7 linked regions of the Homo sapiens genome follow. The protein of the gene in region 7 purifies or fractionates together with the protein of the main gene of each other region. This does not show direct contact. Each region holds a gene or a part of one and is shown on either strand. Other genes may lie near its edges. The genes, in order: ATP1A3, INTS7, HADHB, EXOC1, SLC39A10, TGS1 and TMEFF1.

The links.
Region 1: the proteins of TMEFF1 (region 7) and ATP1A3 purify together in Homo sapiens (affinity purification with mass spectrometry, with the first as the bait; one large-scale study listed by BioGRID). This does not show direct contact.
Region 2: the proteins of TMEFF1 (region 7) and INTS7 purify together in Homo sapiens (affinity purification with mass spectrometry, with the first as the bait; 3 studies listed by BioGRID). This does not show direct contact.
Region 3: the proteins of TMEFF1 (region 7) and HADHB purify together in Homo sapiens (affinity purification with mass spectrometry, with the first as the bait; one large-scale study listed by BioGRID). This does not show direct contact.
Region 4: the proteins of TMEFF1 (region 7) and EXOC1 purify together in Homo sapiens (affinity purification with mass spectrometry, with the first as the bait; one large-scale study listed by BioGRID). This does not show direct contact.
Region 5: the proteins of TMEFF1 (region 7) and SLC39A10 purify together in Homo sapiens (affinity purification with mass spectrometry, with the first as the bait; one large-scale study listed by BioGRID). This does not show direct contact.
Region 6: the proteins of TMEFF1 (region 7) and TGS1 purify together in Homo sapiens (affinity purification with mass spectrometry, with the first as the bait; one large-scale study listed by BioGRID). This does not show direct contact.

Annotation. Positions count from the first base shown.
Region 1 is NC_000019.10:41,980,731-41,984,230, forward strand, and holds part of ATP1A3 (sodium/potassium-transporting ATPase subunit alpha-3), read right to left. Parts: intron 1,377-3,500; coding exon 1,178-1,376; intron 1,102-1,177; coding exon 992-1,101; intron 907-991; coding exon 772-906; intron 1-771. UniProt on the Homo sapiens protein: This is the catalytic component of the active enzyme, which catalyzes the hydrolysis of ATP coupled with the exchange of sodium and potassium ions across the plasma membrane.
Region 2 is NC_000001.11:211,945,058-211,948,557, forward strand, and holds part of INTS7 (integrator complex subunit 7), read right to left. Parts: intron 1,649-3,500; coding exon 1,550-1,648; intron 1-1,549. UniProt on the Homo sapiens protein: Component of the integrator complex, a multiprotein complex that terminates RNA polymerase II (Pol II) transcription in the promoter-proximal region of genes.
Region 3 is NC_000002.12:26,286,439-26,289,938, reverse strand, and holds part of HADHB (trifunctional enzyme subunit beta, mitochondrial isoform 1 precursor), read right to left. Parts: intron 22-3,500; coding exon 1-21. UniProt on the Homo sapiens protein: Mitochondrial trifunctional enzyme catalyzes the last three of the four reactions of the mitochondrial beta-oxidation pathway.
Region 4 is NC_000004.12:55,856,648-55,860,147, reverse strand, and holds part of EXOC1 (exocyst complex component 1), read right to left. Parts: intron 1,835-3,500; 5' UTR 1,825-1,834; coding exon 1,701-1,824; intron 1-1,700.
Region 5 is NC_000002.12:195,660,226-195,663,725, reverse strand, and holds part of SLC39A10 (zinc transporter ZIP10 precursor), read right to left. Parts: intron 1-3,500. UniProt on the Homo sapiens protein: Zinc-influx transporter. When associated with SLC39A6, the heterodimer formed by SLC39A10 and SLC39A6 mediates cellular zinc uptake to trigger cells to undergo epithelial-to-mesenchymal transition (EMT).
Region 6 is NC_000008.11:55,818,446-55,821,945, reverse strand, and holds part of TGS1 (trimethylguanosine synthase), read right to left. Parts: intron 1-3,500. UniProt on the Homo sapiens protein: Catalyzes the 2 serial methylation steps for the conversion of the 7-monomethylguanosine (m(7)G) caps of snRNAs and snoRNAs to a 2,2,7-trimethylguanosine (m(2,2,7)G) cap structure.
Region 7 is NC_000009.12:100,570,649-100,574,148, forward strand, and holds part of TMEFF1 (tomoregulin-1 precursor), read left to right. Parts: intron 1-1,869; coding exon 1,870-2,028; intron 2,029-3,500. Other genes in the region: MSANTD3-TMEFF1 fusion protein, read left to right, coding at 1,870-2,028.

The sequences.
Region 1 (3,500 bases), on a different chromosome or scaffold from region 7:
GAAACCCCGTCTCTACTAAAAATACAAAAAATTAGCTGGGCATGGTGGCGGGCGCCTGTAGTCCCAGCTATTCTGGAGGCTGAGGCAGGAGAATGGTGTGAACCCGGGAGGTGGAGCTTGCAGTGAGCTGAGATCGCGCCACTGCACTCCAGCCTGGGTGACAGAGCGAAACTCTGTCTCAAAAAAAAAAAAAGTTTGCTGAATAATTTAAAGTTGCTGCTCTGCCCCAAGAGGTCTCCTGCTTGTTCCCACTCTCTGCTGTAGGAAAACTTTTTTTTTTTTTTTGAGTCAGGGTCTTGCTCTGTCACCCAGGCTGGAGTACAGTGCGTGATGTAGGCTCTCTGCAGCCCCAACCTCCCCGGCTCAGGCAATCCTCCTGCCTCAGACTCCCAAATCGCTGAGACCACAGGCACATACCACCACACCTGGCTAATTAAAAAAAAAATTTCGTACAGATGGGGTTTTGCCATCTTGCCCAGGCTCGTCTCGAACTCCTGGCCTCAAGTGATCCCCCCACCTCAGCCTCCCAAAGTTCTGGTGTTAAAGGTGTGAGCCACCGCGCCTGGCCTGCAGGAAGATCTTTACTCCTCAGCGTCTCACTCCAACAGAGATCCGGCTCCCACTCTCAAGCTCTCCCTGTTCCTCTCCCCACCAGGCGGGTATTATCATTCCCATTTTACAGACGGGAAAATCAAGGCTCTATGACACCTCTTTACAGGCGTCATAAGGAACCTGAGGTCCAGGCTGGCTCTCCCGGAAAGCCCAGAGTACCTGGTATTTGTTGGTGGAATTGAAGGGAATCTCAGCCACTTTCTTGTTGCGTTCACGCATCAGCTTCACGGAGCCAGAGGACAGCTCGATGCACTTGAGCAGGGCAGACTCAGACGCATCCCCAGCCACATCCCTCTGCAAGGAGAAAGGGTTGTCAGAACAGGGACAGCTGAGGGGAGGACACAGGCAGGGCCGAGGTGAGGCCAGTAGCTGAACCCACCTTGAGCACAGGGATGTTGTCCTGACCACCCTTGAAGACAGCGCGATTGCAGAGCCCAGCGATGTGAGACAGGGCCACCCAGGTGTGCGAACTCTTGTCAAATGAGGTCCCTGGGGGAGGCATGTGTGAGGGCCAGGGACTCCTGGAGCCAGGCCCCCATGGTCCTCACCCGGGGCCTGCGCTCACCTGACTGGTCCTCAGTGGTGTCAGCCTCGTGGATCTGGTTGTCAAACCACATGTGGGCGACTGTCATGCGGTTCTGAGTGAGGGTCCCTGTCTTATCTGAGCAGATGGTGGACGTGGAGCCCAGGGTTTCTACAGCCTCCAGGTTCTTCACCAGGCAGTTCTTCCGGGCCATGCGCTTGGCGGTCAGCGTCAGACACACCTGGAGGACGAGCAAGGGCAGGCAAGTTACAGGGACAAGCCCGGCAGCAGGGTTGGATGAGCGACACGAGGGCCACAGCCCAGCTGCCCAGCCCCCAGAGAATCCTGAGGGCCTGGAAAAGAATGAGGCAGCACCCAGCAATGCCACCCCCAATTCAGACCAATAGAAACAGGGCAGAGACACCCAAAGACAGGGACTAGAATGCTCATAGCAGCCACATGCATAATAGTGCAAAACAGCCAGGTGCAGTGGCTCACGCCTGTAATCCCAGCACTTTGGGAGGCCGAGGTAGGCGCATCACTTGAGATCAGGAGTTCGAGACCAGCCTGGCTAACATGGTGAAACCCCATCCCTACTAAAAATACAGAAATTAGCAGGGCATGATGGTACACTCCTGTCATCCCAGCTACTTGGGAAGCTGAGGCACGAGAACCCCTTGAACCCAGGAGGTGGAGGTTGCAGTGATCCGAAATCGTGACACTGCACTCCAGCCTGGGCAACAGAGTGAGACTCCAACTCAAAAAAAAAAAAAATTGTCCAAAACTGCAAACTACTCAAATGTCCACTAACAGCAGAAAAGATAAATTGTGGACAATGGAATACTAACATTGATAAAAACAAATACATTACTGCTGCCTGCACCTGCATGGGTGAACGTCAAAAACATGTTCAGCCAAAAAGAGCCAGAAATGAGTTCATACTGAATTATTCCGTTAATAGGAAGTTTGAACACAGGCAAAGTTAATCTATGCTGTTAGCAGCCAGATCAGGGGTTACCCTTGGGTTGGGGGGCAGGGGCTAAATAAGGTCTTGAGGGGGCTTCAGGGAGACGCAGTCTCGTTGCAGCTGACGTGATTCTGTTCAGTTTGCCCCAAATCATCAGACTATGTGCTCACAATATGCTTAATCCTTTGCGTATAAAAATCCATTTGACATAGGGTAGCATTCAACATTGCTAATATGGAAAACAGTAAACTTTTTTTTTTTTTGAGACACAGTCTTGCTCTGTCGTCCAGGCTGGAGTGCAGTGGCTCGATCTCAGCTCACTGCAACCTCCACCTCCCAGGTTCAAGCAATTCTTGTGCCTCAGCCTCCCAAGTAGCTGGGATTACAGGCGCCCACCATCACGCCTGGCTAATTTTTGTATTTTTAGTAGAGATGGGGTTTTGCCATGTTGGCCAGGCTGGTCTTGAACTCCTGACCTCAAGTGATCCACCCACCTCGGATTCCCAAAGTGCTGGGATTACAGGCGTGAGCCACCCTGCCCGGCCCTAATATGGAAAACTTCACATAAAACATTAAGTCAAAGAATGAAAGAGGAGAATGGTATTTCTAAGATAGTCCCTGCCATGCACCTTGAAGACAGCATTTAGTCAATATGCTCACAGCTGTCAGGCGGAACCTCACAGAGAATGGACTTCTGGGGTGAAGCTGGCAGCAAAGCAGCCAGAGAAAAAATTTTTAAAAATAATAATAATAATTATTATTATTATAATAATTATTATTATTATTATTTTCTTGAGATGGAGTCTCCCTCTGTCACACAGGCTAGAGTGCAGTGGTTCAATCATGGCCCACTACAGCCTCAACCTCCCGGGTCAGCCTCCCAAATAGCTGGAACTACAGACATGTACCACCACGCCTGGCTAATTTAAAAAAATTTTTTTTTTTTTTTTTTTTTTTTTGAGACAGAATCTCGCTTTTGTCGCCCAGGCTGGAGTGAGGTGGCACGATCTCGGCTCACTGCAAGCTCTGCCTCCTAGGCTCAAGCTATTCTCCTGTCTCAGCCTCCTGAGTAGCTGGGATTCCAGGCACCCATCACCACGCCTGGCTAATTTTTATACTTTTAGTAGAGATGGGGTTTTGCCATGTTGGCCAGTCTGGTCTCGAACTCCTGACCTCAGGTGATCCACCCGCCTCGGCCTCCCAAAGTCTTGGGACTACAGGCATGAGCCACTGCGCCCAGCCTTCACATTTTTTGGTAGAGATGGGTTCTTACTATGTTGTCCAGGCTTGTCTCAAACTCCTGACCTCAAGCAGTCCTCCTGCCTCAGCCTCCCAAACTGTTGGGATTAAAGGCGTGAGCCACTGCGCCAGGCTTATTATTTTATTTTATTTATTTAT
Region 2 (3,500 bases), on a different chromosome or scaffold from region 7:
TAACAAATTCGATTGTGCACTCCCCCACCCCCACAGGACCTGACTGTGCCAGGACAACGAGACAGATGTACCTTTAAAGTGCCTCCTTCTAAACATCACTGTGGTTTTCATCCCAAACCTCAGTTCTATTTGAGGATAATAGAGAATTAGAAAAAAGCAAAGGCACTATTCTCCCAATTTTTGTGGTGAGGCATTTCTTTGACAATGAACCACTTCTAGTAGGGAAAGGCATTATATAAATTTTCATTACCTAAGAGCTGTCTCTTTGGTCTTACGTAATTTTAAATAAACTAAATTCAAATGTAAATGAACTTAAAGTTCCAGGATTATCTACACAACGAAGTCACTGTGCTATAAAAAAAGTCAATATCTACAAATGAATCAAATGACATTTTTCACCTCTCATTAGTTTTTCTTCAAAAATGTATTAAAAATCCCAAACACATCAATTAAAGAAAGCCCAAGTCTTGCTAAATGAAAAGATGGAAGAAATTTGAGTCTTTTTGATAATGTTGTTGAACTACTGATCAACCCTGGAGACATCCTACTTTAGGACTTCTTATCTAGATCGTCAAATCTTCCTCATTATTCCAGTCATTTTGAAATGGAATGCTCTGTTATTTGTAATCAAAACATTTGCATGGATGTAAAAGTTTACTGAAGACATTAACTAACAGGGATAATCCAGGAGATCTCTTAGAAGTGACAATTTTCTCCCTTTTCCAACAATTTCATTTTCTGAATCAAAAATAGCTTTTGAATTGTGAGTGGCTTAAATATTTCAAAATACTAATTCTACTCACTGGTTAGCCCCTCAAAACATGTTACTGAAAGGCAGAAGTACTTTGGAAGAAGAACTGGTGACAGTTTACTGGATCTGATTCATTCTAAGTTGGGTCTATAAGTTGGGTCTGAATAGACTCAGCTCAAGATCCTTGCAGGCTACTGTGATAAATCACTAATTTATTCCTGGAGGTGAGAGACAAACAACAGAGCTCCAGTTACCCAAATGCCTGTCTCATAGAATTTGGCACTGACAATTAAAAAGGGAGAGAGTTTAACTCCCAAATTCATTTCTTTCACCAAACCACTTGATAAAGGAGAGAAATGGCTTACAACTAGGTTTTATCAAAACCAAAGGTAAGCCAGGCACAGTGGCTCATGCCTGTAATCCCAGCACTTTGGGAGGCAGAGGTGGGTGGATCACTTGAGGTCAGGAGTTCCTGACCAGCCTAGCCAACATGGTGAAACCCCATCTTTACCAAAAATAAAAAAATCAGCTGCGTGAGGTGGTGGATGCCTGTAATCCCAGTTCCTTGGGAGGCTGAGGCAGGAGAATCGCTTGAACCCGGAGGTTGCGGTGAGCCAAAATCACACCACTGTACTCCAGCCCAGGCGACAGGGCGAGACTCTGTCTCAAAAAACAAAACAAAACAAAAAAACCAATAAACCAAAGGTAACACACTGAAGTGTAGCTATGTCCTACATAATCTTCAGAAGACACCTGGTTTTAAAACCTATATTAACCTTAGTATTCTTCCTGTATTACCTTGATGCTGGTAGACTGTAGTTTCTGGAAAAAATATCTCTGGAAAGAAAGGGGAACTTTCAGCAAAGCAATGATGGCATTGCAGAGGCATGCTGTGTGCTGGGGGAAAAAAGAAACTAAATCAAATAAAAATAAATTTTCAAATTTCATCAACAAGTGGTACATTCAGTATAAAACTACAAATGCCCATATAGATTATTACAAAGGTACATACCAATCAAGAACTAGGCATCACATCCAGGAACTGTGCATACATACTAAATCATTCATTACAGATTTTTACTTTATTGTGAAGTATATTCAATAAAATATAAGTGACAGAAATGAGAAAATCCACAGTCCTCGAGGCCAAGCAATAGGCAAATTCCACATTTCTACAGCGCTCAGAACTATCAGTATATTATTAAACAATTATATTAGATACTAAAATATAGAGTAACTATCACATGGCAAAGTATGATAAACAGTATGGTAAAGAAGCCCGAGCATTTTGCAGGACTTTGGCTTTGAGCTGGCTCATTCTTTCATTAGGTGGCTTGTCTCTATGGCCATTGGTCCTCAGAGTAAGCAGTGGTGGAAACTTGGTCGAATTCAGATGAAAGAGGACTATATAGTCGGGGAATCCTGAAACTCTAATAAAATATCTTATTTCTCAAATCTGCCTCACACATTTAACTGAGTTTTGAAAATCCCAGCATGACTGCAGAGGTACAGAAACACCACAGAGAATATTTTGAGCCTTAATGAAAGTGGTCATAAAATCAGAATTTAAGCGTTCAAAGATATTTTAAAGATTACCCAGTCTAATAGAAGAAAACTGAAAGTATCATAAGAACACTTTTAACTTCAGGTGAACCAGAACCATTCCTGCTTGGTCTACTATCCCTTCCTCAGTCTACTCCCGTCTCAGTGGCCTCGTAAGTCACCACAGTGAGGCAGCGCTCCTTTCACGGGGGCACTAGCTGCGGGAGGTCTGTTCTTGCAGACCCGATTCAGCAACGGATAAATAAAGTATGCTGACACACAGATATTCTGCTCTGCCAGTCCAGCTGAGGGTCCCAGCCGCTTACAGGCTCCTGCTGAGTCCTGTAAACAGTTGCAACTAGGCCCTGATCAGCTAGTCAGACTCGCATTTATTCAGTAAGATTAATTAACAAAAGCTTGAGTCAACACCATTAGAGGGAAATTGACATTGTGGACTTCTGAGTAAAAGGCACTTAAGCACTCACGGTACATCAAAGGTTAGTCTTTATATGAGTAAACAAGCTAGCCAGGTAAACTACTCTGCCTTTCTTTATTACTATTTTAATTTGTTTAAAGGTAAAGAGATCAGGCCGCCTTCAGCCAGATCTATTACTGAAGTTAGGCAAACTTCTCAGCCTTCCAAGAAGATTTGTGTCTATTTCTATAACTATCTCTAATATTTTTCCCACCAGCCTGATTGAAACCCAACACCACAGGTTGAAAACTGCTGCATGCACCATGTGGTATGCTGTCTGTCCCTCTAGGCTCCTGCTTTCAAGCAGAGTGTCACCTAGTTGCTCATGCTGTAAACATTTTTTTTTTTAAAGTTGGGTGTTAAGGCTAAAAGCCAGAAAAATCCATTCCTTATTGGGTTCAGGCAATTGAACATTTTGTGCCCAACAGACTCATAGTACAAATGCCAAGTCTATTACCTGAGATAATCACAACACAGATTTAAAGACACTGGTTCTATTTTTTCAGATTTAACTGTTAAAATAGCATTAATCAGCTTCCTGCAACAAGTAATTTGGAAAGTATTTGCAGAGACATCCACCTTTGGTGGACCTCTGATGCCACACTAGTGTCTAAGGAGAGAAACATCTTTGAAGCGTGGACTCAGAGGACCACAAGGGACTTCAGGCTGTTTTCAGGCAGAAAGTCACCATTTTGCCTTTTAAAAGAATGGTGCAGATTTTGCAATACCCTC
Region 3 (3,500 bases), on a different chromosome or scaffold from region 7:
TTCCACTATCATAGCATGGCCCTGTAAAGAAAACAAAGTCCAATTAGAGCAATGAATGGTGATGAATCCACCTAGTACAGGGACAGCAGAGAACAAGGAGAAAAGTACAGGCTTTGGAGTGGGATCCTGGCTCTGCCAATCAATCACTGTGATCTTGGGAAAGTTTGTAGTCAGTCTAAACTGGAATTTCCTCTACAAAATGGGGCTCATAGTGTCTACTTCATAGAGTTTTTGTGGGCATCACATAACATACAGTATATTTGTATATGTGTGTATATATATACACACACATATATATTTATATACATTCATATATACATGTATACATATATGCATCAGGCTCTGTCTAGTACAGAATCTAATTCCTAGTGATGCTCTACAAATGGATGCTGTTAAAATGAGAAATCCAGGGGCTTTTTTAACTGTATAAACATAAACATGATACAGCAAATACCAATAAAAGTAAGTTTCTAGAGGGGAAAACTGAGGCTCTGAAAGGTTAAGTGACTCACCCAAATCACAAAGCTATTAAGGTAACAGGGCCAGGATTTGAAACCAGGTCTAGATGATTCCAAAGGCTGGGCTTGTCCCTTCTTCACTATTCTACACAGGTTAAGATAATGATCTGAGGGACCACAAAGGGAAGAAGTAGAATATCTTTCTTTTTTTATTTTTTTTATTTATTATTTTGGAGACCGTGCCTCGCCGTTGCCCAGGCTGGAGTACAGTGACGCGATCTCAGCTCACTGCAAGCTCCGCCTCCCGGGTTCACGCCATTCTCCTGCCTCAGCCTCCCGAGTAGCTGGGACTACAGGCGCCCGCCACCACGTCCGGCTAATTTTTTGTATTTTTAGTAGAGATGGGGTTTCACCGTGTTAGCCAGGATGGTCTCGATATCCTGACCTCGTGATCTGCCTGCCTCGGCCTCCCAAAGTGCTGGATTACAGGCATGAGCCACTGTGCCCGGCCAGAAGTAGAATATCTTTTATCCAGCACTATGCACAGTGCTATGTACTAGCTATGTCCTTAGTTTAGATGAGTCTAAATCCTAGCATAGAATTTTTAGACACCCTCTAAAAAACAAAAAAGTAAATAAAAGAAACTATTATTTACAAAGTGCCAAGTTGAACACTGCAGGTTTAAAGATTTGCCACATGGTCTTTGTCCTCAATCAAGTATACACTGGAGTTCAAAACAAACTGTTAAGTACTTGGTTTTTCTGTTTTTTTTGAAACAGGGCCTCCCTCTGTCACCCAGGCTGGAGTGCAGTGGCCTGAACACGGCTCACTGCAGCCTCAACCTCCCGGGCTCAGGTGATACTTCCACCTCAGCCTCCCGAGTAGCTGGGACTACAGGCACCCACCACCACGCCCAGCTAGTTTTTGTATTTTTAGTAGAGATGGGGTTTTGCCATGTTGTCCAGGATGGTCTCGAACTCCTGAGCTCAAGCAATCTGCCCACCTCAGCCTCCCAAAGTGCTAGGATTACAGGCATGAGCTACCACACCTGGCATGTTAAGTACATTGAAAAGGCACAAGCAGACAAAAAAAGAGCAGGGATAGGAAGGTTTGACTGACTTGGGGGTTGTCCTGAAAGAATTCATAATAAGGTAGACTACTCCTCTCTGGCTTGCTTATTTTATTTTTTATTTATTTTAATTTCTTTATTTGCTTTTTGAGACAAGGCAACTCTGTCACCTAGGCTAAAGTGCAGTGGCGTGAATACAGCGCACTACAGCCTCAACATCCCGGGCTCAAGCAATCCTCTCACCTCCCTCCTGAGTAACTGGGACCACAGGTGCGTACCATCATACCTGGCTAATTTTTGTATTTTTGGTAGAGACGAGGTTTTGCCATGTTGCCCAGGCTAGTCTCGAATTCCTGCGTTCAAGCCACCCAGCTGCCTTAGCCTCCCAAAATGCTGCGATCACAGGCATAAGCTACCGCACCCAGCCCTCTCTGGCTTTATTTTAAACACACTGTTTTCATGTTCCATGTTTTTTCTTGCTCTAGATCAGATTTGGCAACACCTGGAGATACTTTTGGTTATACCAACCGTGTGTACCTGGGGCAGAGGTGGGGAGGAGCTTGTTGCTACTGCTATCCGATGGGTAGAGGCCATGCTAAACACCCTACAACACACAGCCCCCCAAAACAAAGAATTGTTTGGCCCAAAATGTTAGTGCCAAAGTTGAGAAACCCTGCTCTAGATTCACCACGATGGATTTCTCCTCTGTCTCCAACCATGTTGGTATTGCTCACGTGGCTCTTGATCAAACAATGTCAAGTTTAATCTAGTTTCTCAGATGCATCTTATCTTCTCTCTTCATACTATAAACTTCTAGAAGAAAGGTGCTAGGTATTATTCCTTGTTCATCCATAAAAGCATCCAGTATTGTGTTATTTATACTCTACATGCTAGATAAAGAATTAGGGAACACATACTCAAATCTGCAGACATTACCCTATGTGGATTACGCACTATGCTCGTGAGTAATGTGTACAGGTTATCTCCCTGGTAGAAGCCTGGCATGAAGAGATAGAGGGATCGCTCTAGTCTTAATGGACCATGGTTTTCTGTAGATGAAGTTACACAGATTAAAAAGCATTTGTGATCATAAAGTCCAAAATGTTCCAACTGATAAATAACTGACCCCTTGGTTTCTGCAAAGTCTCTGAGGAAAATCCATGAAAAAGGGCTTTTAAACGTAAGATTTATTTCATTTACTTTATTTTTGAGACAGAGTCTCTCTCTGTCACCAGGCTGGAGTGCAATGGCGCCATCTCGGCTCACTGCAACCTCCACCTCCCGGGTTCAAGCGATTCCCCTGCCTCAGCCTCCTGAGTAGCTGGAATTACAGGCGCACACCACCACACTAGGCTAGTTTTTATAATTTTAGTAGAGACAAGGTTTCACCATGTTGGCCAGGCTGGTCTCGAACTCCTGACCTCAAGTGACCTACCCGCCTCAACCTCCCAAAGTGTTGGGATTACAGGCGTGAGCCACTGCACCCGGCCAGTTTATGCTTTTAAATATTTATTCATTTTGATCAGGAACAGGAAGTTTCTGTAATCTAGAGGAAGAGAAAATCTGTTCACATCGGGATTAAAAAAAAAAAAAAAAAACAAAAACAGGCCAGGCACAGTGGCTCATGCCTGTAATCCCAGCACTTTGGGAGGCTGAGGTAGGCGGATCACCTGAGGTCAGGAGTTCGAGACCGGCCTGGCCAATACGGTGAAACCCCGTCTCTACTAAAAATACAAAAAAAATTGCCCGGGCTTGGTGGTGAGCACCTGTAATCCCAGCTACTCAGGAGGCTGAGACAGGAGAATCGCTTGAACTCGCGAGGCAGAGGTTGCAGTGAGCCGAGGTGGCACCACTGCACTCCAGCCTGGGGGACAGAGTGAGACTCTGTCTCAAAAAACAAACAAACAAAAAACAAACTACAATCTTCCTTTTGGATTTTATTCCTAGAGTGAGATGCTACAGCAGTCAGGAAG
Region 4 (3,500 bases), on a different chromosome or scaffold from region 7:
AGGTAAAAATCTAAAGAATGATTGACATAAGTAAAGTCTGTGAGGCTTGAAAGAGCAAAATACCATTTCAAAGAGCAACAATACATTTATATATAAAGTTCTTACTATGTTGCCCAGGCTGGTCTTAATTAAACTCCTGGGCTCCAGCGATCTGCCCACCTCAGCTTCCCTAAGTGCTGGAATTACAGGCATGAGCCACTGCTCCTGGCCTAAGAATTTCTTTATAGCAATGCAAGAATGGCCTAATACAAATACATTACGATTGAGTGAGGTCATTCTAAAAAGTCAATTTATCATTTCAAAAACCAAGTACAATTATATACTACACTAACAAGGAAGAAAATTTTATGATATCAATGATATGAAAAAGCAGTTGATAAAATTCAACTCCCATTCATGATTTTTTAAAAAAGTGTAAGAAACCAGGAATAGAAGGGAACTTACTTAACACTGTAAAGTATAGCTATAAAAACCCTATACCAAATACCATGCTTGAAAATGAAGTCATTCTCCTTGAGATGGAGACTGTATTGATAGTCCTAACTAGGAAACTAAACCAACAAAAATAAAAGATATAAAAACTATAAAGGAAGGAAGAAAAATATCACTACTTTCAAAAAGTCTACATATAATTAGAATTAATAAGAAAGTTTGGCAAGATTGATAGACATCCATATAAAACACCAACAATTCATTGTAGAATTCTAACAATATATGATTTTAAAATGTATTAATGTTAATAAGCGCTTTCACGACTATCAAATAAAATCTAAGAATAAACCAATACTCAGGAGTAAATCCAAGAATATACATGACAAACCTTTAGAGAAAATGATGAAACTTATAAAGTTAAAAAACACCTAGATAAATAGAGAACTGTACCATGTTCATGGACACAAAGATTCAATACAATAAAAATGCAAGTTCTCTCCAAATTGAACTATAGGTTCAAAACAATTCCAATCAAAATCCCAACAAAGTCTGAAACTCGACAAGTTGTTTCTAAAATTTAGGTGGAATAAAGAACAAAAACAAAATAAAAATAACATATAAGATGACAACCAGAAATGCTCACACACACCATGACAGATGTCAACACAGGTGAACTAAGACTAAACTGTAAAAGGCAAAATTATAAAACTTTTGAATTTAGGAAAATATTTTTATGACTGCACAAAAGATACAGGGAAGGATCTTTTAAGACACCAAAAGGGAAAGCCATAAAGGATTAATTAATTTCATTTAGTTTAAATTATAAATTTCATTAACAGGCATCATAAAAAGTGAAAAGACAAGCCACTAACTGGGATGCATACAACCAACAAAAGGTTGATAACCAGATTATAGAAAGAACTTGTACAAATCAGTAAAAGGACAAGCAACACAACAGAAAAATGAGTAAAAGGCTTAAACAGGTAAATTTCATACACAACAGAATGAAATGACTAAGAAATTCATGAGAAGATGCTCAATCTCATCATTATAGGGAAATATAATTTAAAACCACAATGAGATACTATTTCACTGCCACCAGATTGACAACAATTAACAGCCTGTCAAAGCCAAGTGTTAACTAGGAATGTGTTGACCCAACAATTTTTCCAATTACAGAGACAATGAGGATATTCAAAACAAAGAGGAAATATCTTCTAAATAATAAAAGGATACAAAACAAGTACTCTTTCTTACTAAATACCCACCTGTGGCACATAAAAAACAGTTCTTTTTCTTTTTTCCTGCTTTGCAGACATTCACAATGCTCAGCAGGCGTTCATCATTTGGTGTAAAAATGTCTCTTTGTAATGCATGCTTGATTGCTGTCATCTTTTCTCAGCTGAAAAATGTGGAGTATAGATATTAAGCTCACCCTCAACATCATTCCATCTTATACTTCTGAATTTATGATTTGAAAATAATTTTTGGTTAACAAGCCTAGGAAAAATGATTTAATATATGAATACACCTATATCACAAAAATACAAAGCTGTAAGTTTGGAAATAAAATTAGAGAACCAGTGTTATCAAACTCTAAAATGTTTGGAAATGCTCACCAAGTATACACACACACACAAGATTTAAGAAAAAAATCTTCAACCCACTGCTCAAACTTTTAATATAGTTTTCTACATAAAGAACCCTTACAACAATAAGAAGACAAATAACCCCATTAAAAACTGAATAAAAGACCTGAACAGACATTTTTCCAAAGATATACAAATGGCCAATAAGCATATGAAAACATGCTTAACATCACTGGCCACTAGGGAAATGCAAATCAAAACCACAATGAGGTATCAACCACTTTACACCCATGAGGGTGGTTAAAATAAAAACGATAGAAAATAACAAGTGTTGGTGTAACAAGTGTTGGTGAAGATGAGAGGAAACAGAACTCTCATACATTGCTGGTGGGATTGTAAAATGGTGCAGCCACTTTGGAAAACAGCTTGGTGACTCCTCATAAAGTGAAACATGGGCTACCTTATAATCCAACAATTCCACTCCAGGAGAACTGAAAACATATGTCCACACAAAAATTTGTACATGAATGTTCATGGTAGCACTATTTGCAATAGCCAAAAAATGGAAATAACAGAAATGTCCATCAAATGATACATAAGCAAAATGTGGTATATCCATACAATGGATTATTATTCGGCTGCAAAAAAAACAAAGGGCCGGGCACGGGCGGTGGCTCACGCTTGTAATCCCAGCTCTTTGGGAGGCCGAGGCGGGCGGATCAAGAGGTCAGGAGATCGAGACCACGGTGAAACCCCGTCTCTACTAAAAATACAAAAAAATTAGCCGGGCATGGTGGTGGGTGCCTGTAGTCCCAGCTACTGGGAGAGGCTGAGGCAGGAGAATGGCATGAACTCGGGAGGCGGAGCTTGCAGTGAGCCGAGACTGCGCCACTGCACTACAGCCTGGGAGACAGAGCCAGACTCTGTCTCCAAAAAAAAAAAAAAAAAAAAAAAAAAAGAAAAAAAGGAAATGAAGTAATGAAACATGCTAAAATATTGATGAATCTTGAAAAGATTATGCTAAGTGAAAGGAGTCAGCCACAAAAGACCACGTATTGTATGATTCCATTTATATGAAATATCCAGAGTAGGAAAATCCATAGATACAGAAATATAAGTGGTTTTCGGGAGCTGGAAGGGAAGGTGGAAACGAGGATTGACTGTTAATGGGTATGGAGTTTCTTTTTTGGGGTGATGACAATGTCTTTCAACTAGATAGTAATGATGGTTATACAACCTTGTGAATATGCCAAAAATCACTCAATTATACAATTGAAAAGGGTAAATTTTATGATACATAATCTCAATAAAACTGTTATAAAAATAGGTTTCCACTTATCTCCTTTTTCTTATCTAACTCAGCATCTTTTCAAACATCAACTTAAAATAATTTTAAATCTCTATTTTATTTTTCATATACATATTTGTGTGGATATGTATTACAATTTTTCAATGCAAATGTGTAGTATTTCATACATG
Region 5 (3,500 bases), on a different chromosome or scaffold from region 7:
TTTTCTCTTATTTCTTTTTTTTTCATAACTTCTATATTCTTGAAACACCATAAAATCAAAATCTTAAAAACAGTATATTCCAAACATTAAAAAATTATGAAAATATGATATGCTTTTCTAAAAAAGGTCCATGGGAATAGAAAACATGATCTCACTGCCTTATAATGTATATATACACAGAATACGTTATGTGTATATTATACTATCTTATTATTACGTTTTCTTACATTGTTTTACTGATCTCATTTTATAATGTAGTAACACACCATGTATTGTTTCATTTATATTGATAAAGTATTTAAATAAATCTTTCCCTAGCCCCTTTCATCAAGAAGCTATGTTCCTCTATAACACAGTGCAAAGTATATTTCTTCACATGCAAGCAAAATAATGTAAGGAGTCATCTTCAGTAGAAGTGCACTGAGTTAATATACCAAAATATTTGTTTAAAGGCCTGTAAGCATGCAGTTTTGAATTGCTTTATGAGGGGAGTGAGAAGATAGGAGGGAAAGGGGAAGGGAAAGAAGACATGAGACATAGGCGGCATAAAAATATGATCCATTTCCTGCTCTGAGAGAGTTACAAGGAAGACACAATCAGCTTTTCAATTAGAAAAGGTAAACTGTGAGAGAGCTACATAAGTAGCTACAAACAGTGTGACAGTTCGGTGGTAACCAACAGTTGAAGGCCAAGGGCTTCACATTCCTTTTCCGACTCCAAGCATAATAAAGCATAATTCCCTCTGCAGAGGAAAAATGGAAAGCGGAAAGAGACAAAAAGCTTCTCTACTATGTAGGTAAAGAACACCTGCAAATTCACATTACCTATGAATTGATCATTTGACTGAACATTTTTCTACTAAAGTATTTTACCGCAAGAGCAGCTATAGACAATACACACATCAATAAGCAAGTTTTGTTCCAACAATTTACAGAAGCAGGGATATTTGGCCCATAGTTTGCTGATCCAAATTTAATTTACAGATTTTTTTTTAAAGTGCCAATCCAGCAGACAATTATAGGGGAAACCACTATTTTAAAACTCAAAAATTCAAATATATAAAAGTGAATTTAGAAAAAAGCCTAGAGGTGGGAAGGCAAGGAATATCTGAAATTGTTTCTTTTTATTTATAGATATTAAAGTAATAGCATAGGCTGGGCACGGTGGCTCATGCCTGTAATCCCAGCACTTCAAGAGGCCAAGGCAGGTAGCTCACTTGAGTTCGAGTTTGAGACCAGCCTGGGCAACATGGTGAAACTCTTGTCTCTACAATAAAAAATACAAAACATTAGCTAGGCATGGTGGCACACGCTCCCGTATTCCCAGCTACTAGGAAGGATGAGGTAAGGGGATGACCCAAGCCCAGGAGGTCAGGGCTGCAGTGAGCCCTGATCTCACCACTGCACTCCAGCCTGGGGAACAGAGATACTGTCTCACAAAAAAAAAAAAAAGGGAACACCACAGTAGGATACATATCTCTGATGTTCTTACTACACTAAAAGTGACTGAGGTTTTTCTTCTTCCTTTATTCAATGAAAATCTAAAACCTAAAGTGATCACTGATTAAATCTTCATTATAGAGGATTAAAATTAACCTCCTTCGTAGTTCACAGTTCTTATAACAATACTTCTCGTCCTATGGAAGTACATAATGATATTAATAAGGATACATCCTACAACATTCTTGCTTTTCTAATCCCTAAAAATCTTAACGGGATGGGCTGTCCCCCAAAGTCGAGTATATAAAAGGGTAAAATTGATTAGAAATATTAATACAAGGATAAGTATTATCTGATACCTCCCTTTCAGCAGTATCTAAAAATGAGTAATTATAAAACATGATTATAAAAGGTTATGACAAAATATTTACTTTTAGATTGTGAAAATAAACACTACCTGAGCAAGATTTTAGATTTTGTCCTTATACTTGTACAAGCCTGCAAACCTGTATCACCAGTAGCATCCTATTCTAACATCTTTTAACATAAAAATATCTACCATTAAAAATCTATTAAATAACCACTCCTTGTATCTGGCAATCCAAAAAAACCCTTACGTTCTGATAGGAAAACAGTATTCGACACAGAATTACTGATGTGATACAATGAATTGTGTCCTGTTTTAACATGTCTGAACATTGTATGTGGTCTCCTAAGCAGTTAATTTGGAAATAATTTAGTATTACTGGCTGGGCACGGTGGCTCATGCCTGTAATCCCAGCACTTTGGGAGGCCAAGATGGGAGGATTGCCTGAGCCCAAGAGTTTGTGACCAGCCTGGACAACATGGCAAGATCCTTGTCTCTATATAAATAAATACATACTATTATTTAAAACTGTAATTTTGATTCTATATTTCTTCATACCTACTATACTTTTAAGCATTCCACTAATTTTTTATTGAGAATATGTTTGGATATTTTAGAAAAAGCTAAAAGTTATCCTGTGGCCTATCCATAGAACTTATAAGGGATAATAAAAAGAAAAAAAAGAGTTTGAAATACTGATATTGCAATAATCTAAATAAAACCTAAAACCTTAAGAGTTTGCATTGACTACAGAAAATCCTTTCTGTAAAGTAGATTTTGTAGAATGTTATCTGTTCATTGCCTTTGTGTAGTGGTATATTGTGTTATAATATCTGTGTGTAAACTGAATACTTGGGTTTCATTATAGTATTCACATAAAATAATATTAATGATATAAAAAAGGAAATCTTGTGGCTATGAAGAGGTCCTTGAAACTATTTTTTAAGAATCATTCTATAAAAGTCATAGAAAATAAATTCGAATTTTAAAAAAAAGCTCACAATGTAAATTTAACACTTTCAAACTTTATTATCAGTACAGTCAAAGCAATACAAAGTTATATGGAACTAAATTAATCTAGAAAGTAGATTTTTATATCATTCAAGATAAGGAGAAGCCCAGATTAAATATATAAAATTGTTGTTATTTACACAGCTAACTTCCCGCTTTGAAAACAATCCCATACGTAAATTTCTTTTTTGGAGCAAGGTAACTTGGTGATTGTTCTATCTCTACCCAAAATTCACCCCTATTTGGAAAACTGGGGGCTAAAAGCAATCAGAATTCACCAGTTCAAAAACACTTACGTCCATCTTATTAGCAACACTAACTACCCAGAGGAAACTAAAATAGACCAGATTTACAGCAGTAAGTAAATCTAATTGTAATTTAAACATTACCTTATTTTAGCAAAAGGTGAAGGGAATCAAACGCTAGGGGGCAGCATCAAACTGTTGTGGGTTAGGCTGGGCAGCCTTGCAAACTTTAAGCTTTAGGGTATTTTTAATGAGAATTACACTTACATAAAAGATGAATTATAAAACTTCCGTTATAAAGGAAAAAACTAGTTGTTTTGATTCCCTACATTTCTCTTCCATTTCCCATTGTGTACTTTCTTTTGCAACTATGACTGGTATCACTTTAAAATGCACTAGTAATAATGTCCTTCTGATACTAAACTCATGGCATTTCCA
Region 6 (3,500 bases), on a different chromosome or scaffold from region 7:
CCATTTCTGAAGTTTACTTGAAAAAAAAAATAAAGGTACTATAAATATAGTTATTATTATTATTATTTTTTGAGATGGAGTCTCGCTCTGCTGCCTAGGCTGGAGTGCAGTGGCGTGATCTCGGCTAGTACTGCAAGCTCTGCCTCCTGGGTTCATGCCATTCTCCTGCCTCAGCCTCCCGAGTAGCTGGGACTACAGGCGCCCGCCACCACACCCGGCTAATTTTTTGTATTTTTAGTAGAGACAGGGTTTCACCGTGTTAGCCAGGGTGGTCTCGATCTCCTGACCTCGTGATCCACCCACCTCGGCCTCCCAAAGTGCTGGGATTACAGGCGTGAACCACCGTGCCTGGCCGATGGTTATTATTTCTTATATAAGCCATAAATAGAATTCCATAAAAACCAATTTCTGAGAAGGTAGGGTAGTTTTGTTTTTCTTAATACCTTTCAGAGGGTTGTCTAGATGTGGGTGCTTGGGATTAAAATAAAAAACGGAGGTAAGATGGGGGTTTTCTCAGAAATCATGAGTTCTGAAGTCTGTGCAAAACAGTTCATAAATTACTTTACTCAATAACTATTATTGAGAGCTTATAGGTATCTGTTCTAGGCAGTGCAGTATAGCAAAAAACAAACAAGAAATCCCCACCTCCATGAATTTTACATTCTGGCTGGGAGAGTCAGATGACGGACAAATAAAACAAATATTGTTCCTGATAATGGAGAAGGTGGTGTATCTATGTGACAAAATATAGTGAGAAAACTCTTATGTACTTAGTGTTTAGAAACAATTTTTTTTTAAAAACTTAACATGTTACTTTCAAGTGTTCTGATTACGAATAATTTCTAACTTTAGCCTTTTTGTACGTTTTCACATTTTCACAACTACATATATGTTAAAAGTTAGAATTTTGGAGTTGGAAAGACTTATAAATTTAGTAGTTCAAGCAAATAACTTTGCTTCAGGCAAATTTAATGAATGCCATTAATTTCTAGCTGTCCTTATTTTTCACTAGAAGGTTTAGCTGACAAAATATTATTTGGTTCCCTCCGCTTTCTTAGAATTTAGTAAATTGTGAGAGGAAGAGAGGGTAGGAAGGACAGAGAGAGGGAGAACGGCAGGTACAAACAGATAAAGATTAGCAGCTCTGGATTACTTTCCACATTTTTGGCATATTACCTAAATATATTAATTTTACCAAAATAAATCCCAATTAATTTGGACCAGAACTAGAATTAAGGACTGAACTCTTGACTAGATTTGACATCAGGCAGTAAAGCTGTTCTTTGGGGACTGGCAAAGGAGAAACAGAAAAGATCACAATGAAGGTGTTAAAGCACAGAAGATTTAAGCATCAAATAAAAAGGTAAACATTCAAAACTGCACTTTTTTTTTGTTTTGTTTTGTTTTTTGAGACGAGTCTGGCTCTACCGCCCAGGCTGGAGTGCAGTGGCATGATCTCGGCTCACTGCAACCTCTGCCTCCTGGGTTCAAGCGATTCTCCTGCCTCAGCCTGCCGAGTAGCTGGGATTACTGGCGCACCTGGCTAATTTCTGTATTTTTAGTAGAGACAGGGTTTCACGATGTTGGCCAGGCTGGTCTCAAAACTCCTGACCTCAGGTGATCCGCCCGCCTCGGCCTCTCAAAGTGTTGGGATTACAGGCTTAAGCCACTGCGCCTGGAGCAAAACTGCATTTTTTCAAGAGAAACTGGATTTAAAGTAAAAGTGCACGATAACCGAATGAGAGAAAATAACCTCCCAACTGCATCCTACTGGAAGAATAGATAATAATTACTAATGACAGATACACTTTATTACAAGAAAGACACAGAAACATCAGAGCGCTGAAAAATGCCCTATTACTACATGGAAGAGATTATATCTATGATACGCAGAAATGTGGTTAGAAGATAATTGTACCAGGTAAAAATAAAGAGCATTTTATGTGGCCTTCAGATCTGTGTCAAATACAATGCTAGCAGCAGCAAGCATCTGAAATACTGGCTGTGACTACAAACCTAATGTCACACAGGCCAAGAAAGTGCTTTGCCACTAGTTATTTTTGTCCCTCTTTTCTTTTGCTAGATCCAACTAATAACCACATGAAAATAAAACAAAGTTGGCAAAACATTTCTGGTAATTAAAAGTTCTCTGGGAGGTGAAAGAAGAAAATATTTTTTAGTCAGCAGAAAATCAGGCATCATTCAAACTTAAAAATATTCATTAAATTAGTTCCATTTCTCTGCACATGGTAAACAGAAATGAGATTTCTATGCTTCCGTAAATAAATCTTAAAGCCACCATCATCAACAGGAGCACCTGGTGGCAGGTCAAAAAAATTCTCCCAGGCAGCCAGGCACAGTGGCTCACACCTGTAATCCCAGAACTTTGGGAGGCTGAGGCAGGCAGATCACCTGAGGTCGGGAGTTCGAGACCAGCCTGACCAACATGGAGAAACCCCGTCTCTACTAAAAAAAAAAAAAATTAGCCGGGCATAGTGGCATATGCCTGTAATCCCAGCTACTTGGGAGGCTGAGGTAGGAGAATTGCTTGAACCCGGGAAGTGGAGGTTGTGGTGAGCTGAGATCAGGCCATTGCACTCCAGCCTGGGCAACAAGAGCAAAACTCCATCTCAAAAAAAAAAAAAAAAAAAAAAAAATCTCCCAGGCATCACAAGCTAACCTACACTGGTGTCCTAAGAGGAGGCTACCAGGCCGGGCACGGTGGCTCATGCCCGTAATCCCAGAACTTTGGGAGGCTGAAGTAGAAAGATTGCTTTAGCCTAGAAGTCCAACCTGGGCAACATGGTGAAACCCTGTCTCTACAAAAAATAAAAAAATTAGCCAGGCATGGTGGCCCATGCATATGGTTCCAGCTACTCTGAAGGCTGAGGTAGGATTGTTTTAGCTTGGGAGGTTGAGGCTGCAGTGAGCTGTGATCATGTCACTGTACTGCAGCCTTGTGGACAGAGCGAGGCTCTGTCTCCAAAGAAGAAAAAAACCCCACCAAAACCCAAAAACAACCAGTTCACTAAGCTCTGTCCTTCACTCATTCTCAGAACCAGATACTGGAAACATGAAGACTGTTCAATTCAACAAATTACAGAAAGCACAGGCTATCAGCACAGGACTGGCAGGTAGCACTATGTGTGGCCCAGAAGAGCTGGATATCCCTCTAATTTCTATCTCCATCATTTACGGAGAAAAGTTACCCACAGTAGTGAAGGAGATACAAGCTATATTTAGAAGCATTTCAGCAAAGCTGCATTTGTGTCTTCCCAAGTCAACTATGAGGCCAATCAGTTCCACAACCCCTCTAGAGCATGACAATATATATGGTTTAAGAACAAACGATTCTGCTCTAATTGTGCAGCAGCAAACTTCCCAAGGGAAAAGCTGGCTAGTAAATATTAGGAACTGATCATATATTTATCCTGAATTGCAGTGTATGATTAAGCACTGATTTCACCAAGAACAGAGTTGGTCTAGAAAACTGGGAATCA
Region 7 (3,500 bases):
TTGTTTTTTTTTGTTTGCTGGAAAGCGTAGAGCCCAATGTGAAATGTACTGGGAAGTGTCTAGGAACCTCAGGGACTGGATTGGTAGACTTGCAGCACCCCTGGATTTCCCTGTTTCCCTCCTCCCACATTTCTTTTTTGTTGTTTTAATGTGTGCTTTGCGATAAGCTGCCTCAAATTCTTTTCTTAATGAGTTGTGGGACATTCATAAATACTGTTTTTATACTTCAAATGTTTTATTAATCAGTTCTCACTGAAGGCTGGCTAATTTATACATTTCACTGCTGTCAGCTTAAAAATGTAAATTGTCTGTTAAGTGTCTTAAATATTTCTCCCTGTCAAATTATCATCAGCTGATGCAGTTGTCTTTTTATCTACTTTTAATTGGAATTCAGATAATTTCCAAGATTAGCACCTACAGCTTACCTCCTTGACTGCTTGACATTGTTTCTGTTATTAATAACTTATTTTCATCTTCCCCTTGCATCTTACATGTTTATATTTTATACACTGAAAAGTGTCTTGAATATAATTTGGTGCTATGTTCAGAGGACTGTAAATGTTTATACCTATTTTTTCAATAGTCTTAATTTTCAGGTACTTAGCCCTAAGGAATAACACTAAATATAGAAAAGCGCATATTCACCAAGATGTTTACCACATCTAATTTATAATTGTGAAAAATTGAAAATAACTGACATGTCTTAGAACTGGGAATAGATAATGCTAGCTATATTATAGTCACTGGATGGAGTATTATATTTCTGTTTTGAAATTATATGTATCTATTTTGAAAAAAATGCTAAGAGAGTAGATTTTAAGTGTTCTCACCACAGACATGATAACTATATGAGGTAATGCATATGTTAATTAGCTTGATTTAGCCATTCCACAATGTCTATACATTTCCAAATATCATGTTGTACATCAGTGGTCCCCAACCTTTTTGTTGCCAGGGACTAGTTCCGTACAAGACAGTTTTTCCATGGACTGGGGATTGGGGGTGGGGGTGATGGTTTGGGGATGATTCAAGTGCATTACATTTATTGTGCACTTTATTTCTATTATTATTACATGGTAATACTTAATGAAATAATTATACAACTCACCATAATGTAGAATTGGTGGGAGCTCTGAGCTTGTTTTTCCTGCAATTAGACAGTCCCATCTGGGGGTGATGGGGGACGGTGACAGATCCTTAGGCATTAGATTCACATAAGGAGCACTCAACCTAGATCCCTTGTGTGCGCAGCTCACAATAGGGTTTGCGCTCCTATGAGAATCTAATGCCAGTGCTGATCTGACAGGAGGCGGAGCTTGGGTGGTAATGTGAGTGATGGGGAGTAGCTGTAAATACAAAGAAGCTTTGCTTACTTGCCCACCACTCACCTCCTGCTGTGTGGCCTGGTTCCTAACAGGCCATGGACCAATATCTGTCCATGGCCCGGGAGTTGGGGGGGATCCCTGTTGTACATGATAAATATACGTAATTTTATTTGTCAATTTTTAAGCAAATTTAATTTAAAAAGTGAAAAAAAGGAGTAAATCTTTGTGGCTTTAGATTAGGCAATAATTTCTTAGATATGACACCAAAAGCAAAAGCAACAATAACAAAAAAAGATATACATTAACAATATTCAGCAACTTTAAAATTAATGTGATATAACTTAGGTGAAAGACGCACCATGTAGGCATATCAGAAAGACAGTAGGGAAACATACAAATGACATTTTTCCCCCAGATGGTAGGAAAGTGCATGATATCCTATTCCTGTTTAAATTTTATTACTATTTTGTATTTTTTAATGTAAAAGCTTGGGAGTATCAAAATTTGTAATTTTCATAGGAATATATATATTTTTCCTTTTCAGATGTGAATCTGGCTACACTGGACAGCACTGTGAAAAGACAGACTTTAGTATTCTCTATGTAGTGCCAAGTAGGCAAAAGCTCACTCATGTTCTTATTGCAGCAATTATTGGAGCTGTACAGATTGCCATCATAGTAGCAATTGTAATGTGCATAACAAGGTAGGTAATGATGTAAGAAATATCAACTTTAAATTAGAGGCAGGCAACTGTTTATTTATAGATGCTTTGAGGCCACCAGTCTATTAGGAAAAATCTTATGATCAGTTCCCTGAGGTTTTCAGTGGTCTCTCCCTATCCTTCTTCTTTAGGATACGGGCAGGGACTAATTCCCAGTCTTACAGGTATATCTGGGCGACAAGCAGAGAGGGAATGAGAATAGTCAATGAGATAAAGGAATTTAGGGATCTGAGAACTGTATACAGTCTTTGAACACTGTATTCTGGGAAAATAATGTTAGTAGCAATCTTTTTTTTTTTTTTTTAAGAGACAGGGCCTCACTCTGTTGCCCAGGCTGGAGTGCAGTAGCAATTAGAGCTCATTGCAGCCTCAAATTCCTGGGCTCAAGTGGTCCTCCAGAGTAGCTGAGACTATAGGCGTGAACCACCCTGACTGGCTCAGAATTTCTAGAATGATCTGCACATGCATAGGAGATCCATGCAGAAGATTTTTAAGCCCTGCACAACTGCAAGGGGTTCTGTGCCCTAAGAACGTACTTTACTCACAGTTAGTATAGTAAGAAAGGAAGAAATCAGAGGCTGAAGATAGTTTTATTGTGATATCATGGTGTTAACATTACTTCATTTTCAGGATTGCAGCGATAAGTAATAAGCTTTAAAATTCTGTATTATAAATAAAATTATTCGTCATAAATTAAATGACTTATTTGGAGTGCAGTGGCATAAAATGGGTCTTTTCTAAACTGAGTAGAAATACATAAGTCAGACTGAACTGGGCCTGAGAAAAGTCAGAGTAAATCCAGCAAGTTCGTGTTGTCTTTGTGCTTCCCAGTCTAATGCTTTTCTTCCTGCTTACCTCTTTCTTTAAGCTTCAGTTCAGAAGTCTCATAAGCATCATTTCTCCACTTCCCTGCATTATTCTGGGCAGAGGGTTGAAGCATATCAAATACAGATATTGGCAGGCCATAATGGATTTGTGGCCCTTCTATCCAAGGTCTGGATAGAAGCCAGACCTTCAGTAGTCTCAGCCATCTGGAGCTGAGATGATAAATCTAGAAATGATAAAAAAGAAAAGGTTCTCCAAGTAACAGATATTTTTCATAACACCTAGGCATGAAAGTCAGTGCGCTTTATTTCACAGAACAGATGATCTGCCCTTAGGCAAGACTACTGAATATAAAATTGGACGGTAGATCAAAGTAGGGACATAATCATGTAACAAATAATGATAACAGAAAGAGAAGATAGGGAAAACACATTTAACAGCATGACTGGCTGTAGCCATTTAATATAGACTCAGAGGTTAAGTAATTTGTCTGTGGTCATCCGACTAGTAAGTGGAATTGTCTGGATTTGGATTCAGTTTGATTCCCATTCATTCTTTACACTGAAAGGTTCCATGTTGAGTCATCTTGGGAAACATGTTTGCCCAGTATGACCATTGCATGGGAGCAG